Regions from separate parts of the Homo sapiens genome. Here region 2 is linked to region 1. Evidence: fine-mapped expression QTL. Tissue or cell type: whole blood. Region 1 holds a variant in brackets; the other region holds the start of a gene. All regions are shown on one strand. Distances are between the middles of the regions.

Region 1 (5,127 bases):
ATCGCTTGAGCCCAGGAAGTGGAGGTTGCAGTGAGCTGAGATCGTGTCAATGTACTCCAGCCTGGGTGACAGAACAAGGCTCCATCACAAAAAAAAAAAAAAAAAAGAAAAAAGAAAAAAAAGAATACGGGTCCCATGCAATGTGGCCAGCTCTGAGTTTTCAGAAGTTGCTTAACACTGAAATTTTAATAAAATCTCCCAGTTTTTATATGTTCGCAATTAATTTTTTAAAATTTTTAAATACTGTCCACACCACCAGTTTGTAACCTCTGGTCTCAAGTTCTTAAAGTGAAATATGGCTTTTTAAATCTTTAGCGTAAGTGATCTACATTGCCAAAAACAAGGGTGGGAATTCACAAAACACAAAGGAAAATATCCTGTTTAAGATTAAAAAGTATCTTTTTCACCCTACAATACAAATTCGTAATATAAAAGCAAAAGTATGAGATATTTATAATGCTCTCTATAGAGAAATTCAGAATAGTATGATTACTATTGGTAATAAGTTTAATTCATTTCTGTTTCTTATTCAAGAGAAAAATTCCCATTTTTCAATTTCAAATGCAAAAAATAACAATTTAATGTATTATTTAAGGAAATGAGCATCACACAAAATAACAGCTTATTACCCACTGAAATAAAAAAAAGCATTTTTTTTCTTTTTTTCCTTTTTTTTTTTTTTGGAGATAGGGACTTGCTCTGTTGCCCAGGCTGGAGTGCAGCAGTGCAGTCATGGCTCACTGGAGCTTCAACCTCCTGGGCTCAAGCAATCCTCCCACCTCAGCTTTCCCCGCAGATGGGACCACAGACACATACCACCATGCCCAGCTAATTTTTCTATTTTTTGGTGGGGGAAGAGACTAGGTTGTGCTATGTTTGCCCAGGCTGGTTTCAAACTCTTGGATTCAAGCGATCCTCCTGCTTCAACCTCCCAAAGGGCTGGGATTACAGGCACCAGCCATCGCACCCAGCCTAATTAAAGCATTTCTATGACAGTTTTATAATATAAAGAGAAATGGCCATAATATATCATGCACAAAATTACTAAAGATCTATGGGCTATTGGCTAATATGAAGACAGCTGCTTCTGATATTGTACTCAATTAAGGAAGCCATGAACACGGTAAATTTAAAAGTGTCTGGTCAAACACCTAACACCAGTATTAATAAAGTTTTCTAATTATGAAATGACCATATTGTTAAATTTTCCCTGAGTAAGACTTTCCTCCACCTACTGAAAGTGGAGAAGAATGGAGGGAGTTACAGTTATGATTTGGGACATAAAGCCTGAATTATTTTTCTATAGTTCCCGCTAAGCTACTGATAAACCACAGAAGGCAGTAACAAACCTCACAAGAGTGCCTGGTAGGCTCTAATTGGATCTTATCTAACATTTTACTGTATTTTTTCTTTTTTCTTAACTAAATTACTCTAAGTAGTAAATATCTTTTGCCTTCTGAAATCAATATTCTGTAATATGTAATATCTTCCTCTCATGGAGCATAAGTAGTAAATATCTTTTGCCTTCTGAAATCAATATTCTGTAATATGTAATATCTTCCTCTCATGGAGCATAAAGTCTTATTGTAACTTGAATCCTCCCATATTCATTTCTCTTTCCTAGTTTTGTGCATGAAATACCCACAAAGCAATTTGGTTATTTCTCCTAAAGCTGTTCAACAGTTAAACCTTTTTCCTTTGAAGCACATACTATACTCTCAATTGGTACATGCAAGCAAAACAAGTTTTCTTTTCTCTCTCTTTTTTTTTTAAATACAGACACGGTCTTACTACATTGCCCAAGGTCTTACTACATTGCCCAGGCTGGTCTCGAACTCCTGGGCTCAAGCAATCCTCCCGCCTTGACTTCCCAAAGTGCTGGTATTACCAGCATGAGCCGCCATGTCTGGCCCAAAGCAAGTTTTTAATCTCATTTAGTACAGGCCAGGCATGGTGGCTCATGCCTGTAATCCCAGCACTTTGGGAGGCCAAGATGGGTTGATCCCTTGAGCCCAGTAATTCAAGACCAGCCTGGGCAACATGGTGAAACCCTGTCTCTAGCAAAAAAATAAATTAATTAAACAATACAAAAATTAGCCAGACATGGTAGTGCGCATCTGTAGTCCCAGCTACTCAGGAGGCTGAAGTGGGATGATCACTTAAGTCCAGGAGGCAGAGCCTGGAGTGAGCACTACATTCCAGCCTGGGTGACAGAGGAGATCCTATCTCAAAAACTAAATAAGTAAGTAAAATAAAGTCAGTTATTATAAAATTTAAGATAGAGTTCACTTTAATCATAACATTGTAAAATGCACTGCACTTTTACATTCCTCGTTTTGTTT[T/C]TGGGTTGTTTTTTTTTTTCCTCGCTCTGTTGCCCAGGCTGGAGTGCAGTGGCACAATCATCTCACTGTAGCTTCAACCTCCTGGGCTCAAGCAATCCTCATGTCTCAGCCCCCTGAGTACCTAGGACTACAGGCTCACGCCACTATGCTGGGCTAATTTTTCCTTTTTTCTTTTTAAAAAATGGAGTCTTAGTATGTTGCCCAGGCTGGTCTTGAACTCCTGGCCTCAAGTGATCCTCCTGCCTTGGCCTCGCAAAGTGCTAGGATTACAAGTGTAAGCTAGCACAACCAGCCTCCTCTTGCTTTTGTGTGGTATTTACTGGCAACCTGAAAAGCTGTGGTTTAAAATCTGCTATGACATTGAATATAATTACTAGCTTACTTTTATTTAACTTTTGTCCAGTCTCAAAAAATTATTTAATTACTGACTATACTTTTTTTTTTTTCTTTGAGACAGAGTTTCACTTTTGTTGCCCAGACTGGAGTGCAATGGCGCAATCTCGGCTCACTGCAACCTCTGCCTCCTGGGTACAAGCGATTCTCCTGCCTCAGCCTCCCTAGTAGCTGCGATTACAGGCATGTGCCACCACGCCCAGCTAATTTTGTATTTTTAGTAGACATGGGGTTTCTCCATGTTGGTCAGGCTGGTCTCAAACTCCTGACCTCAGGTGATCCACCCGCCTCGGCCTCCCAAAGTGCTGGGATTACAGGTATGAACCACTGTGCCTGGCCAATTACTGACTATACTTAAAACATATAAACAATTTCACCCATCCAATTAAAATCTTTAAAGTTATATTTACTCCCCTCCTTCCTTCAAAACGCCATTATCCCCTTATCTTCTCACTCTATAGCTATGTGGAAATGCAAAAGGAATACTAGTGTTCTTAAAACAAAGCCTCTCTTTTCCCAGCTGATTTTACTGTTCTATAAAAATAGTTTGCTTTAAGACATGTCACATTGTAGAACAGTAACAACTACACCATCTAAACCTTATTGGGCCTTTATGCACCAGGTACACTTTAAATGATTTAAATATATTAATTCATTAAATCCTTCCACTACCTTATGGATAGTAATACTGTTACTATAATTCTCACTTCACAGATGAGGAAACCAAGTAAGATGCGTAACAAAACTAGAAAGCAGTAGAGGCTTTGACACTTTTGTCAGGTAGATACTTGACATCCTGACTCAAAAGCCCCTGACTTACACTACTATGTATTTATAAACACTACACTGATTACCCAAACCTATAAATACCGAAGCATATGATTGTCCTGTGCGATGGTTAATACTGAGTGTCAACTTGATTGGACTGAAGGATGCAAAGTAATGTTCCTGGGTGTTTCTGTGAGGGTATTGCCAAAGAAGATTAAGATTTGAGTCAGTGGCCTGGGAGAGGCAGACCCACCCTTAATCTGGGTGGTACCATCTAATCAGCTGCCAAAATGGCTAGAATAAAGCAGGCAGAAGAAGACAAAAGAGCAGCCTTGCTGAGTCTTCCAGTTTTCATCTATCTCCCATGCTGGATGCTTCCTACCCTCGAAGAACATCTGACTTCAAGTTCTTCAGCTTTTGGTCTCTTGGACTTACACCAGTGGTTTGCCAGAGGCTCTCAGGCCTTCGGCCACAGACTGGAGGCTGCACTGTCTGCTTCCCTACTTTTGAGGTTTTGGGACTCAGACTGGCTTCCCTGCTCCTCAGTTTGCAGATGGCCTATGGTGAGTCTTCACCTTGTGACTGTGTGAGTCAATTCGGCTTAATGAACTCCCCTTCATATATACATATATTCTATTAGTTCTGTCCTTCTAGAGAACCCTGACTAATACACCCTAGGACCACATATTCTTGTTGCCTAATTATAAAGGAACTCCATGAAATTTCTTTAATGGTTCTTAAGAGTCACTGCTGACTGTGCAACAAATGCACATGGTATTATAAGAAAATTTATTCTTTTAGGGAATAAGTACATTTTCATGTAAAATATTCAAGTTTTGAATACATCAATAGAATCCTACTAAATTAGCTTGTATTGTACAGTGAAATTATTACCATACAGTCTGATACTCTGTAATATGTGTTAGCAGGGTAACTATTGAACATGTAAAAAGCATCTGAATCATGAGAACTTGATTAATACAGGATTTAATAAAGAATTCTTTTGTTGTTTTCAGTATTTGTGACATCTGGGTAGTGGACACTTTTTCCTATAATCATCCCCTACAGCTACACAGTAATAGAAGTATATTTTAAGGAGAATGGAGCAACACAATTTCAAGTGGTTGTTAGTGATATTTTACCTTCACTGGGATATAGCTACAGTTACATTATCTCACTCATAAGCAGCATAGCAGGCATCCGTTTGAATTCTACAAATGTATATGCTCAGCTTTCAGACTCATCTTTCATTATTTTCAGTAAAAACAACTCCAAATTCTATTAATTGGAGAAGGTATACAGGTGGTGAGCTTGCCTAAAAGACAATGCACATATCCTGATAGCTGTTAGTACTGCCTTATTCTCATATTATAATGGCTTACTTACTTCATACCAAGAGAAACTCATAGCCCCAGAATCACAAAAAATTATATAATCATTTCTATAACAAATTTACTCAAATAGCAGAGAAGTAGATTCACAACTACTTTAAATAAAGGTTTTAAAAGCTCCATAATTATAACTACCTTTAACTATTATAACTTTAGGCCTTAAATCACATCTCTAAATTTTTACAGTAATAAGACAAGCATCTTTTAAGTGCCTACTGCATACCAGGCACTAT
Region 2 (5,146 bases), 380 kb after region 1:
CATGTTGGTTCCAAGTTGCTCAACTCTCAGGGCTCAGCCTACAAAAGACTCGGCATTTCGACCAGCTCAGTCCAGAGGACTCCAGAGAATGACTGCTGAGACCACCCCACTTTCCAACCCCCACTACAGACACACAAAAAGAACAGAAAAAAAAGTCTATCTCACATACCCCTTGAGTGGGTTTTGTTGTAGGTCTCTCTGCTCCCCTCCACCCCTGTGCTTCATCCTGCCCTCTCTCATACCTGCCATCTATCCTCAGCACACACGGCGCCTTTGCCACAAGTAACACCTTTGCATCCAGCACTCTCCGTGTCTATATCCGCCTCCACCTCCTCAGCTCCCGAGGGGCTGGGTTACAGAAGATGGAGTGAAAGGGGGGAATGCAGAGGGGATGGACATGGAGAGTCTTGGAAAAGGAAACTCTAACAGCTGATGGGTTGTAGGGTAAAGAGAACATGGGAGGCAGGGATAACAGGTCAAATAAGACCATAACAAATTATCAAACGGCGAGTGAATTTTCTTCCTGCATGCAAAGAAGAAATGAGGGGGAGGGCACCAGTTAAGAGTCTGAGACTTGGGGGAAGAAAATGGCCAATGGCTGAGAACTGAGTACAGACAGGAACTTCAGAAGCTGTTGCAGGTATTGTATCTTGGGCACTTCTGGACAGCACCTGAGAGAGAAAGACTAAGAAATCCCTGAAGAAATTGAGCCCAGGAGGCAGAGGTTGCAGTGAGCCCAGATCGCACCACTGCACTCCAGCCTGCGCCACAGAGTGAGACCCTGTCTCAAAAAAAAAAAAAAAAAAAAATATTCCTCGAAGAAAATTAGGCCTTTGTCAGTAGAAAAGGGCTGACACCCACTACAGGAATAGGATGGGAAAAGCTGCAGGAAGGAAGCTGTGGTTTTTAACCCCAGCTTTGCATTATAAAGAATTACCTGGGGAGCTTTAAAACTATATGCTAATAATCAGGACACTCTAGGCCAATGAGACCAATCTTTGAAGGTAAGGCCCAAGTGACTGATTTCTCAAATGTGAAGCCAGGGTAAGAAACACTGAAATACAAGAAAAGCTGAAAACCCAGTTGGAATATTTAAGGCTGGTGCTGTTAACAAGTGGGAAAGGAAAGTTGAGAGACTATTTCAGTAAGAAGAGTGCCCAAGTTTGAGAGGAATCCTGAGTGGCAGTTAGAGGGCTCTATGCAAAGAAAAGCAATAAAGAAGGCAATGCATTTGAGAGGAACTAGTCTAATTCTGAATAGAACATGGCCCAATTTAAGGAAGATTTACAGGGAATGGATCTGCTTGCAAAATAATGAGGCCCAAGTGAGAGGCAGAGGCCATAAGGCCAAATCTGGGGACAAAAGGTCTGGTGTGGGGAACTAATGAGCTTCAGACACGGTTTGGACAGGACAGCAACAAGTTTGGGGAAAAAATGAGGAAGAGAATTAGGTCCAAATTGTAAATGAAAGCCATTCTGATGTATAAGGAGCAACTAGGATTAAAAATTCCGGGGAATTAGGAAATTGTGGAACAGTTTCAGAGAACAGAGGCAGAAATATGGGATATATTAAAATTTGAGGGAGAGATAGGTGAGAAGGGTTGTCTTGGAGAAAGAGAGGCATGTAGAGAAAGGAAAATTGAGGAACTATCTGCAGGGGGAAGGATATACCATGCAAGTTTGGAAAACCAGGGTGCTCGGTCTGAGAAAGATGTGCAGCCTTTCTCTAATTAATGGGGGAAGACTAGGGTCGGGTTTTGAGGGAGGAAATTGCAAAGATCTAGTGTCCAGAATATAGAGCTTGGTTTGAAGGCACTGGAGGTACAGGGGGAAGGTTCACTGGAAGCGAGATGGCTGGGTCCTGTGATCTAATGATCCAAAGACGGGATTCAGTTAAGAGGGGAAGGAGAAGGATGAGTTCCAGCTGAGAAAAGATGTTTAGAGGGTAAGAATGTTTCCAAGAGTGTTGGGGGTATACCATTGGGGCAACAGGATGGAGCACAAGAATCAAACCTGGTGTTTGATAAATAAAAGGAATGGCGCTGGGAGACTGGGAAAATGGGGCCTAACTGGGAGAGGGGTGTGGAGAGGGGAAGGTGGGGGAAAGATGAAGCTGAAGTATGGGACCAGGAGGAAGAGGCTGGACATCTGTGTAAGGACTGCTAGGCCTGAAGAGAATGGGGGGAGGGTGATGAGTGGGGGTAAACTGAGAACTGAAGGATGGAGGTTGACTTTGCGGGGGGCAGTGATATGAGAAGAGTCTGGGTGGGGGGTGCAGTTTTCATCAGGGAGGGAATTCAAAGGGAAGGGTGAAGTGACTTATAAGGGGAGTAAGAAAGATTTGAGGAAGACAGGAAACAATTTGGGGAATCTGGATGCCGGGGAAAGCCCAGTTTGGGGAATGGGGCACAATTCGGTGGGGCTGAAAGAAAAAAGGGGACTTGCTTGGAAGGTTGGGTTCCGGCTTTTGGGGGCTTTAGGGGAGGAGAAGGCCCGGATGAGGGGGATGGGCCCGGCTGAAGAGGGGGCTAAAGGACAGAAGAAGGCCCAGTTGCAGGGCTGAGGACCGGACTAGGGTGGCTGAAGTGGTGAACGGACCTGGCTGGGGGCGGATGGCCCCGCTGCGGGGGGCGGGGGCCGGCTAGGGGTACGTGAGAGGCCCTCTGGAGCAGATGAGGGAGGATGGGGGCGGGGAGCCTGGGCCGGGCCGTTACCTGTCCTGGGTGTTTATCATCCTCGGCGGCTCTGCTCAGGGTGGGAGGAGGCGGCGCAGGGAGTGGATAGATGGATGAGTGGGTGGGTGTGGGGTCACGCGCGCGGGGTCGATCTCTGCGGGCTAAGTCCCTGTCAGGCCGCGGGCCGAGCGCCTCCTTTTGCCTCAGCGAGCGCCTGCCTCCAACTGACCCTCCCCGGCCGCCACCGCCGCCGCCGCCGCCGCCGCCCCGCCCCCGAGTGCCTCATCTGCATAGCCCCACCCCAGCGCCGCGCGGTGTCCTGGGAAACTGGGGCCCACAACAAAGGGCAAAGCACCGCCCCGCCTCCGCGCAGGCGCACCACGGACCGATCGTGGGGGTAGGGCTAGGGGGTCCGAACGAAGGGCAGGCTGTGCAGGAGGCCATGACCAAGGCGGTGGGTCTGCCCGCAGCTGCGGCAGCGCGGCCCAGAAGATGCGTTGTGTTTCCGGTAGTTTTCTGTGAGGATTGACTCAACCTGGTCCTCATCCCTATTCCTTGTTGGCGTGGGGCCGAACAGGGCTGTGCCATTTGGGAGGATATTAAAACAAAATCAGAAATCTTAAGAGAACTACACACATATTAGCACCATTCCTAGTCTGAGTCCAGGCCCACAGATCTGTTATCTCAGCTCATAATGCAGATCAATAACCTCAGCTGTCAGGGTAGATCAACAATCTCAGCATCTCGCACACATCTCATGTCAATCGTCAAGGCTGCTCCAAGCACTGGCTTAGGTCATCTGAAGCCAGAACTCTGTAGATCATGAGCACAGTCACAACAAGACAGTCGTGGAAAGCGTCGTCACTAACTTGTTCACGGTCACTTCAGATCACAATCAGTGCAAGTTACTTCAATCGATCATGCAAGGTTACTAGTTCAGTCACCTCCATTCATTATCCCTACTGGTCCTTATGACAGATTAGTGCCTGAAGGCCACAGTCACCGGTGCGCAGACCCCTCAGATCACAGTCCTTGTAGGTTACAATCACAGACACTTCAACACAATCATCAAAAGCCCCGACTCTGTTCACAGTCAACCCAGATTGCAATCAAGAGAGGTCACATTATCTCAGATCACAGTGGGTCACTCTGTCACCTCAGATTACATCCATTCAGTTATTCAACAAATAATTATTTTATTTATTTACTTATTTTTGAGATGGAGTCTCTCTCTGTGGCCCAGGCTGGAGTGCAGTGGCACAATCTCAGCTCACTGCAACCTCCACCTCCCGGGTTCAAGCGATTCTCCTGCCTCAGCCTCCTGAGTAGCTGGGATTACAGACATGTACCACCATGCCCGGCTAATTTTTGTATTTTTAGTAGAGACGAGGTTTCACCATGTTGCCCAAGCTGGTCTTGAACTCCTGACTTCAGGTGATCCACCTGCCTCGGCCTCCAAAAGTACTGGGATTACAGGCATGAGCCACCGCACCCGGCCAACAAATAATTATTGAATAGCTACTTACTGTATGCTCCAGGCATGTGCTAGAGTCCAAGAATACGCCATAATCAACCAGGCAAGGTTCCTGCCTTGGATGTCACAATCCGGTCAAGGGGAGAGACACAGGTCATCACAATACCAGGTAAGTAAGTGCTCAATCTGAGGAATGCCACAGAGAAAGTAATTTAGGGAATTAGGGACAGCTTTGCAGAAAGAGTGATAACTCAGAGAAAGGGTGACACTCCAGATCGGCGGTCACTATGACTTTCAGTTCACAAACATCTCACATTGGAGTCATCTCAGGATATGGTTACTCTCCTTCACAAACAGCATGCTTTTGGGTTTTGGATGATGGGGATGGAGGCACAGAAGGAAGGCTGGAGCTACCAAGCTAAGGCTTTTTCAACACAAATTAAAGTGGTAAATGATACCGAAACTGCCCGGATTATCACTAGATATTCAGGCAAGGCTGGTCTCATACTCTGGTTCACTTTAAGATCCTCCACTTTGTCCCTCAGCTATCCCTACCTACTCCTCCAGGTTCAAGTCAGGTATGTTCTTACATTAGTACTTAGCAAAATTGGACATTTAAACCCAGCCCTGATCTACCCCATCGCATAGTCCCAGAGACCTGGGCAATCCTCCTGGACCCTCAGAGGGAGCTGGAATGTCTCACTTCTGCCAGCCCATTCCTGGCCAAGTAACCCTTTAACCTGAAGGACAGTTTTTGACCCATGAATCAACAAATATTGAGAACTCACTATGTCAATAATAGCGACCATTTATTGAGCATCATGGGTAAAGTACTAAATTTTAGAACAGCTCTCCACCCTCGTTTTAAGGATGAAGAGAATTAAACCTCAGAGAGATTTATTCTGTCATCCAATATTTATTGAGGGTCTGTCTATACCAGACATGTTAACATGCTAGCTTTAATTCAAAGCGATTAAGTGGTATAGTTAGAATTTGGA

The links. PIP is the estimated chance that this variant, and not a neighbour inherited with it, causes the effect.
Region 2: OAZ2 starts here. The variant in region 1 is fine-mapped to the expression of OAZ2 in whole blood (INTERVAL, PIP 0.98).

Annotation. Positions count from the first base shown.
Region 1 is chr15:64,320,591-64,325,717 of GRCh38, forward strand. All of the region lies in intron 1 of CSNK1G1 (casein kinase 1 gamma 1), which reads right to left. Among named protein-coding and RNA genes, the nearest start is that of CSNK1G1, 33 kb to the right of the region's middle. The variant T/C (reference allele first, on the strand shown) is at 2,343.
Region 2 is chr15:64,700,316-64,705,461 of GRCh38, forward strand. OAZ2 (ornithine decarboxylase antizyme 2) reads right to left here and starts at 2,966. Exons shown (of 5, transcript NM_002537.3): 1 at 2,714-2,966. The coding sequence starts at 2,733. LOC124903507 (a long non-coding RNA gene) reads left to right here and starts at 4,228. Exons shown (of 3, transcript XR_007064679.1): 1 at 4,228-4,317. RefSeq lists enhancers at 1-85, 86-923 and silencers at 2,552-2,771, 2,782-3,101.